Homo sapiens: one gene and its partner. The protein of the gene in region 1 purifies or fractionates together with the protein of each later gene. This does not show direct contact. Each region holds a gene or a part of one and is shown in the gene's direction. Other genes may lie near its edges.

The links. Proteins that work in one complex are often made in the same cells at the same time.
Region 2: the proteins of SLC35F4 (region 1) and ASCC3 purify together in Homo sapiens (affinity purification with mass spectrometry; one large-scale study listed by BioGRID and IntAct). This does not show direct contact.

What each region holds. Positions count from the first base shown.
Region 1 is NC_000014.9:57,863,268-57,867,451, reverse strand, and holds the start of SLC35F4 (solute carrier family 35 member F4), read left to right. Parts: upstream 1-1,359; 5' UTR 1,360-1,626; coding exon 1,627-1,729; intron 1,730-1,774; exon of another isoform or gene 1,775-1,797; coding exon of another isoform or gene 1,798-1,891; intron 1,892-2,452; exon of another isoform or gene 2,453-2,665; intron 2,666-4,184. UniProt on the Homo sapiens protein: Putative solute transporter.
Region 2 is NC_000006.12:100,846,830-100,850,423, reverse strand, and holds part of ASCC3 (activating signal cointegrator 1 complex subunit 3), read left to right. Parts: intron 1-1,716; coding exon 1,717-2,276; intron 2,277-3,594. UniProt on the Homo sapiens protein: ATPase involved both in DNA repair and rescue of stalled ribosomes. 3'-5' DNA helicase involved in repair of alkylated DNA: promotes DNA unwinding to generate single-stranded substrate needed for ALKBH3, enabling ALKBH3 to process alkylated N3-methylcytosine (3mC) within double-stranded regions.

The sequences.
Region 1 (4,184 bases):
GGTTTCTTTATGAACTCTCCTTCCAGCCACAATAATCTCAGATTGACTCCACTCTCAAGATCCCGTGCTAAGCTTTGTGTTTGGATGAAAACCCAAAACATATTGTAAAATTTAATATTGCGTTTTCATATGCTTAAACCTAATTTACCTTTTAGAAAAAAAATTTGCATATTTCTTCCTTCTTAAGGGCCCACACACAATGTGGAAAATGCTTGGAGGCAGGATGGTGTGATAGGTTCTCTGGAGGTTTCTGAGAGGGGCATTGAAGTCGACTTTTGTTTCTCTTTTTTTCTTCTCCCTAAGCTTTAGTAATATGAAACCTGGCAGGGATGTCTTAAGCCAGCTCTGCACGGAAGGTGGACCTAAATTGCCTCTAAGCTGATGAGCTGACCCTCCCCTCCACTAACCCTCCACCTCCACCTTTTCATTTCTGAGATGAAACTTTGAAAATTATTATTATTATTATTATTATTATTATTATTATTATTATTATTTGCAGGAAGCTGTGTCTGCAGACTATGAACAGAGGAATCGTCTCCACTGCTCACTGACCCTAACCCATTGGGTCTCTGGCTAAAGCAGAAGAGTCCCACACCTGAGGGGAGGGTGTTCGCTCTGAACACACAGCTTCAAGGATGTTCTGCTCTAATGGAAAGGCTCTAGACTGTAGCTAAGACTTTCACTCGTCCAGATATTTACAGTTTGAAGGACTTCCCTCCTGATATTTTTGGCAATAAAGGAGAAAATCATTTCTCCTCAGAGCATTTGAAATTGGAAAAATAAACGTGCTGTGTGCAGCTGAATCTTCTAAGCCTTTGACATTTTTCAGTGGCAGGATGGAGGGTCCGTATGGACAGTCAGACTTGAGCGCTTGAACACTTACAGTCTTTGCGTCTGCAAAACCTGGATAATCACTCCATATACCACCTGCCGGGAACTAATTTTCTTGTCATTTCATAAAAAAAGATTCCCAGTCTTCTAGACAAGTTGCAAGGACTGACTAACGCGGGGGAATGCTTGCATATCAGCAGACCAGAGGTGGTGTAGACGCCAAGCGTGGACCGAGTCCCGGGGCGCCCCAGAAGTGTCTTCTCCCCGAGCGACAGAGTTAATGCCTCGCATTAACAGCTATGAGTCCCTCTTGGGTTTCTCCCACTCCCAACACCCTTCTCTGAGCCCCTGGCCACCGTCGCCTTCTCCTCTCGCGCCCCACTGACCAAACATCCCTTTCATCAGGTGGGGTTGGGGTGTCTAGTTTTCGGGAAGGATCGCGCAAGGGTTAATGATGAAAGCTGGCGACCAGGTGGGGCGCCCACACCCGCCCCCGGCCACGGTGGGCGTCGGAGGTGAGGGGGCGCTATTCGGGCAGCAGTGCTCCGGGTGGCGCGCGGGAGAGCTGCCAGGCTGACGGAGAGGCCGGCCCGAGTGGGGGCCGCTCCGCCGCCGCCGCCGCCGCCGCCGCTGTGATGCGGAGCCGGTGCTGCGCCGGGCGGTGGAGTCAGAGCCCGGGCGCGGGAGCAGGAGCTGCAAGATCAGCACCAGCGGCTCCGGCACCTGCACCAGCTCCCGGGCCCCGCGCTGCGCTCTCCGCCCCGCCGCACTCGGGGCCGTCGCCCCGCGCTCTCTATGGATGTCAAGGCGGCCCCCAACGGGGTGGCCACTATCGAGGACCGGATCCTGCGGATCACCGGCTACTATGGCTATTATCCAGGTTACTCCAGCCAGAAAAGTAAGACGCCGCGCGGCTGCCCTGCGCGAGGCGGGGAAGGGAGGTGGGCGCGCAGGGGTGCCGCGGGGATGCGGACGGGCGGGCGCGCGGTACGGACACCTGCAGCCCTGCGGACGCTGTCAACACCGCCTTCCTGGCGGCGGGGACCCCCCGGGGAGAAAAGTATGTCCGCTGTCCTCGGTGCTGAACCGTGAGAGGGCAAGGGGCCCGGCTGGGTGCGCCCAGGAGTTTGGAAACAGTCGTAGCCTTGGGGGGAGGTGCGGAGGGGACCTGGTGAGCGCTCCTGACCGCCGTTGGCCGGCTCACCCTGGTGGATTTACGCCCGGAGGAGGCTAACATGGCTGTTCACTTAGCGGAAAGTCAGCCCTAGGGGATACATGCCCCGAAAGCCCCTACTGCGTGCGGGGCGCTGGGGACGCAGGCTGGGGAGGCTCGGGGGTGGGGCTGGCGGGGGCGGCCGACCCAGACGTGGGTCCCGGCGCTGGTGGGGTCAGCTCGTTCACTCCGGGCTGTTGAGACGCTGCCAGCGCGGGAGTTACTCCGGTTACAGTATCTTTAGGAGGTTCTTCACCCTGGGAAGAGAAAAGAACCTGCTCAGGTCTCCGAGCCCCAGAGCTTGGAGCCAGAGACCCGTGCAAAAGACTGGGGGCGTGGGGGGGGGGGGTCTGAGAAGGGGAGGCGACAGGGCCACCCGCCCCCGCCGCACGTCGCGGTCACCGCTTTCTTCCAGCTAAGCGAGGTCATGCGGCGTGGATGCTTTCACGTTTTTGGACCAGTTTTGGTGGGAGGGCGATGAGGTGTGCTCTGCTCGCAGTCCCCCTCCCCCAGTACACAAACCCACTAGCTATATTTGCTGGGATTAGTTCTACTGGCGACTGAAGTGCAGCTCATTTTTCTTCGAATTGGAGGAGTAGCTGCGGTTTAGTTTCTATGCAGGTGGGCTTTCGCTTTTTTCTTTATCAATGCATTTCTGTTGCAACAGATGAAGCTTAATTGATGTTTTTGCCGTTATTGTTGTCAGAAGCTTGGAAGCTCCTAGATGCATTTCTGATACGTATTTTTCTATGACATTTGGGGTGCAATCAACATTACAGTTTCTGTGATGCGTGGGACCCACAAAAATTCCGGCACAAAGACAAGAAAACACTATTTTTTCATGTAACTTTCTCCCCTACCATGCTTCCTCTCTATTGAATAATAATTCAAGAGCTTTGTTCCATGGGCTGTTCTCACACAGATATTTTCTAGTTCGATATTTCATCTGGTTTCAGGAAAGGCCTATCTGATTTGGATGGTTTCTGTCTAGCTGTTTTTAGCATTAGGGGCTTAAATTATTCATTTTCCATACAAAAGTAATTATATAGTGTTAGAATTTTCTGGAAAGAAAATAACACACTGTGGAATGCCCTTTGAAGTACTATACACTCAAAAACTTCTCCTTTTTTATTGGCAAAGGATTTCTTTTTTAACCCTGGAAACATAAGTAAAGGAACTAATATATCTTGTGGAAATTACTTGACTTTCACCTTTGAATATTTTAATTAGGAACCATGGGATTTTAGTGGCTTAGAGAATGTAGAAGCTGTGTGTGAAATTACAAGACTCAGGGTGGTTTATTATTGTAATTTTTATGACAATGGAACTTTGGCTAACAATGAACAACCCAAAAAGAATACTGAAAAAGTGACATTTTAGATAAGAACATGTTCATATTATATTTTTGTACTTGCTCAAATAGCTGCACATGCTTCATTTGCAACACAATAACAGGACAAAAAAAGGGAAGAGCACTGGCCAAGGCTATAACTGGTAGCCAAAAGGGATAAAGATTAACTTGGCATGGTTATTTGTGATGGGCACTTACCTACCTAAGTTCAGACCGTAGAGTTAAAAGAGTGAAGGCAGAGAATCTCACAAGAAGAGAGAATTAAGTGATAGTCAGATAAATCTCAGGATGCTCATGCTTTCGGAAGTAGAGAAAGATTGCTATTTTGCACAGTGAGAGATTGAGAGAGGAGAAAGCTGGAGGAGGGCCAGGGAACCGAGCACCATGAAATAATCCTGTCCTAATGCAGGCTTCAACTAGTAAACAAACACACTGAAGCAAACCAGTACAATATGGTCAATTGATTTGGCTGTTACAGGGAATGAGCAACAGCTTAGGGGAAGTCTGGAAAAATATACTTAAGAAAAGGCTACAGTGATGAATATATAATATGTGAAAGCAAGGTGACTTTCTCATTTCCTGTCTGATCACATATGAAGGACAATCTCTAGATATCTATGCCATTTACCTTTTTGGAGATAGACGGGGACTTACCTCTAAGAAAATGCACTGAAGATCAAGCCTTCTGTTAATGCATCCTGCTGTTTGCTTGTACCTTGTTCAGAAAAAATTCTAGTAGTCAGGCTGATGCAAAAAAAGAAACATGATAGAATTCAGATAAATGAAGGT
Region 2 (3,594 bases), on another chromosome or scaffold:
ATGTACTCAACGTTGTACTCATCTTGAAAGAGGTAGTTGAGCTATATTCTGAAACATGGGTAGGATTTGAACAATCAGAGGCCTTGAAGAAGAATCAGTATGATATAGAAATAGGCATAGAGTGGGGTAGAACGTGGTTTTTGGTGAAGAAATTCTTTTTGGCTGGAGCAGGAAATATATAATAGCCAATAAGACTGGAAAATAAAATGCTGGGGTCAGCTTCTGGCAGTGTAGGAGCTTGGATCAAGCTATAGTAAGCTGTGGAAGATTTGTGAATAATGATACTGGAGTCATGTTTCCTTCTTTTTTTTTTTTTTTTTTTTTTGATAGAGTCTCAATTCTGTCACCCAGGCTGGAGTACAGCGATGCTATCTCTGCTCACTGCAACCTCCGCCTCCTAGGTTCAAGCGGTCCTCCTGCCTCAGCCTCTCGAGTAGCTGGGATTACAGGTGTGTGGCACCACACCCAGCTAATTTTTGTATTTTTAGTAAAGACGGGATTTCACCATGTTGGCCAGGCTGTTCTCGAACTGCTGACCTCAGGTGATCCACCCACCTCGGCCTCCCAAAGTGCTGGGATTACAGGCGGGAGCAACTGCAGAGTCATGTTTTTTAGAAAGATACCAGTATTCATTACATTATTAACTTTAACAGTATTTAGGTAAGTCACATAGCTTTTGGGGCCTTTTGAAGATTTAAATTCTTCTTTTCTTCTCTAAGAATATTCTTTGAAACCCATGTCAGAAATACAGATTCTTTTTTTTATTTGAGAAAATTGGATATGAGAAAATGCCTTAAATAAATTAGAGGCTGATTCTTCTTATATTTACTTCTAGCCTCTTTTAAACAGGAGCTTTCTTTTTTATTTTATAATATGACTAACTTTATCTTCAGCTTAATAAATATCCTTGATGGTATTAAATGTTTTTGAATGAGAACTATAGAAGTATTTCTTGCCATCTCAGGTTTATGGTACAAATTGGAAAGAAAATTATAGATATTTGAGGTTTCCTTGAAGCTCCAAAAGTCTATAATTCAGATTGTTTTCTGTACCTTACTTTGGTTTATTTAACTAGCTCATCAAATCAATCTTTAAAATTAGTTTTAAAGTGAGTTTTAGCTAGTGTCTCAAGTTGTTTTTAGAAAGAAGCTGTAAGGATTGTTACTAGGTAGTTTCTGCACTTAGATACATAATAATTACTGATAATGATTTATTTACCTAAAATAGTTCTTTGGGAAATAAATAGTTCTTCAGGAATGGGTTGGTTCCTGCTCCTTAAATTGGCTATCTGTCTTTATTGTTATGTTTTTGTTGTTTTTTTTACAAGGTCTCACACTGTTGCCCAGGCTGAGTACAGTGACACAATCATGGCTCGCTGCAGCCCCAACCTTCCAGGCTCAAGCAATCCTTCCACCTCAGCCTCCTGAGTAGCTGGGACTACAGGTGCACACCACCATACCTGGCTAATTTTTAAAAATTTTTGTAGAGATGGTTCTCACCATATTGCCCAGGCTGGTCTTGAACTCCTAGACTCAAGTGATCTTCCTGCCTTGACCTTCCAGAGTGTGGGGATTATATGGAGCCATTACACCTGGTCTATTGCTATGATTTGACTGTTAGATTTACTCAGGAGAATATTTGTGGTAATTTTTTGGAAGATCGTAACTTGAACCATGATTCAATTGAGCTAATACTGTTTCTTTTGTCTTTGAATAGTTGGAACTGATAATGGGAGAGAAGCAATTGAAAGTGGGGCTGCATTTCTCTTCATGACATTTCACTTGAAGGACTCTGTTGGTCACAAGGAAACAAAGGCTATCAAACAGATGTTTGGCCCCTTTCCTTCATCATCTGCCACTGCAGCTTGTAATGCTACTAATCGAATTATTTCTCATTTTAGTCAAGATGATCTTACTGCTCTTGTGCAGATGACAGAAAAAGAACATGGCGATAGGGTTTTTTTTGGTAAAAATTTAGCATTTTCATTTGACATGCATGATTTGGACCACTTTGACGAACTGCCAATAAATGGTGAAACTCAGAAAACTATAAGCCTAGATTATAAGAAGTTTCTGAATGAACATCTCCAGGAGGCTTGCACCCCAGAACTCAAGCCTGTGGAAAAAACAAATGGCTCCTTTTTGTGGTGTGAAGTTGAAAAGTACCTAAATTCAACTTTGAAGGAAATGACTGAAGTGCCAAGAGTAGAAGATCTTTGCTGTACTTTATATGATATGCTTGCTTCTATTAAAAGTGGTGATGAACTTCAGGATGAGGTATAGTTGAAATGATTTATTTTTTTATATTAATGTGAACTATCCTAATGAAATAGTGTTTTTTAAACATGGGTGGTTAGCAAAGAAAGTTCTTTAATGTTCTGTATAGTAGTTGAATCTATAGCCAAATGGTTTCACATAGCAGGCCTGTATATACGTTCCTAATGGATAGTTACAGGAGGTCTGAAAGTGTAATGAGTGTAGCAGAGGAGTAAGCAGACAATAGTTGGGTGTCCACATGCTCTGGTTACTGGGACAGTGCTGGTTTGATGTCAACTTAATTTTAATACTGGACAAATTGAATGAGTAATATATTTCATGAAAGATTAAGAGGGATGGCCTACTGTTGTAGAAAGGACAGGCTTTGAAATCAGTTTGTTCTTCCCTTTCCACTTACTGGTTGTGACACTTTAGGTAACTTAATCTCTCAGAAGCTCAGTTTTCTTGTTGGGCTATCTCAAGGAGACACCAATATCAAGATAGATAATTGTTATAAGGATTGAATGTGATATATGCAAAATGGTAAGTAACATGTTAAATAATCATTATGTGGTAGCTGTGATTATTTTTGTCGTTATTATTGGAATTAAGAATTTTTAAATCACATTGAGTATTGGAAATACAGAAAAAATACTAGCTGTATTTTTCAGAGAAAAATTAATTTAGAGAATTAGCTAAGTAGGTATTGGAGGACTTAACCCATAGGTGTTATGCCAACTAACATTAGTTTGGAAGTAAGATATTATATCATTAATTCTGTGATCAGTCTTTTTACTGTGAATGTTTTACACTTGGTTTAATTTTTATCAGATCTGTTCTCACTATTAAATTTTCTCTAACATTCTGAACATAATATTGTTTTAAAAATTGTGATTTACGAAGAAAATTTTACTAATATTTGCTCATCATAATTGAATACATAGTAGTTATCCAATTATGATTATAATAAACTGAAATTTATAAATATCTAATTAATGGATATTTTATTTTCTTAGTAAGCCATAAAACCATTACTTTCACTTCTGAATATCTATAGTAAGTTTGTATTTCTTAGTCTTTCACCACAATTTTAAAGTATGTAACTGAATCTGATTGTTGGAAGGGGAGTATTTGTGCTAGATTTTTTTCATAATAGCTTCATTTGTCATATATTTATTGTATGCTTATTGTATTGCTAGGTACAGTGCTATTTACTGAACATAAAAGGATGAATAAGATAGCAAACTTGTTCTCAGAATTAATTGTCTAGCAGGAGGAGACATGTCAACAAGTAACTGTACTGAAATATCATAGGTATTATAATACTACATGCAAAGAA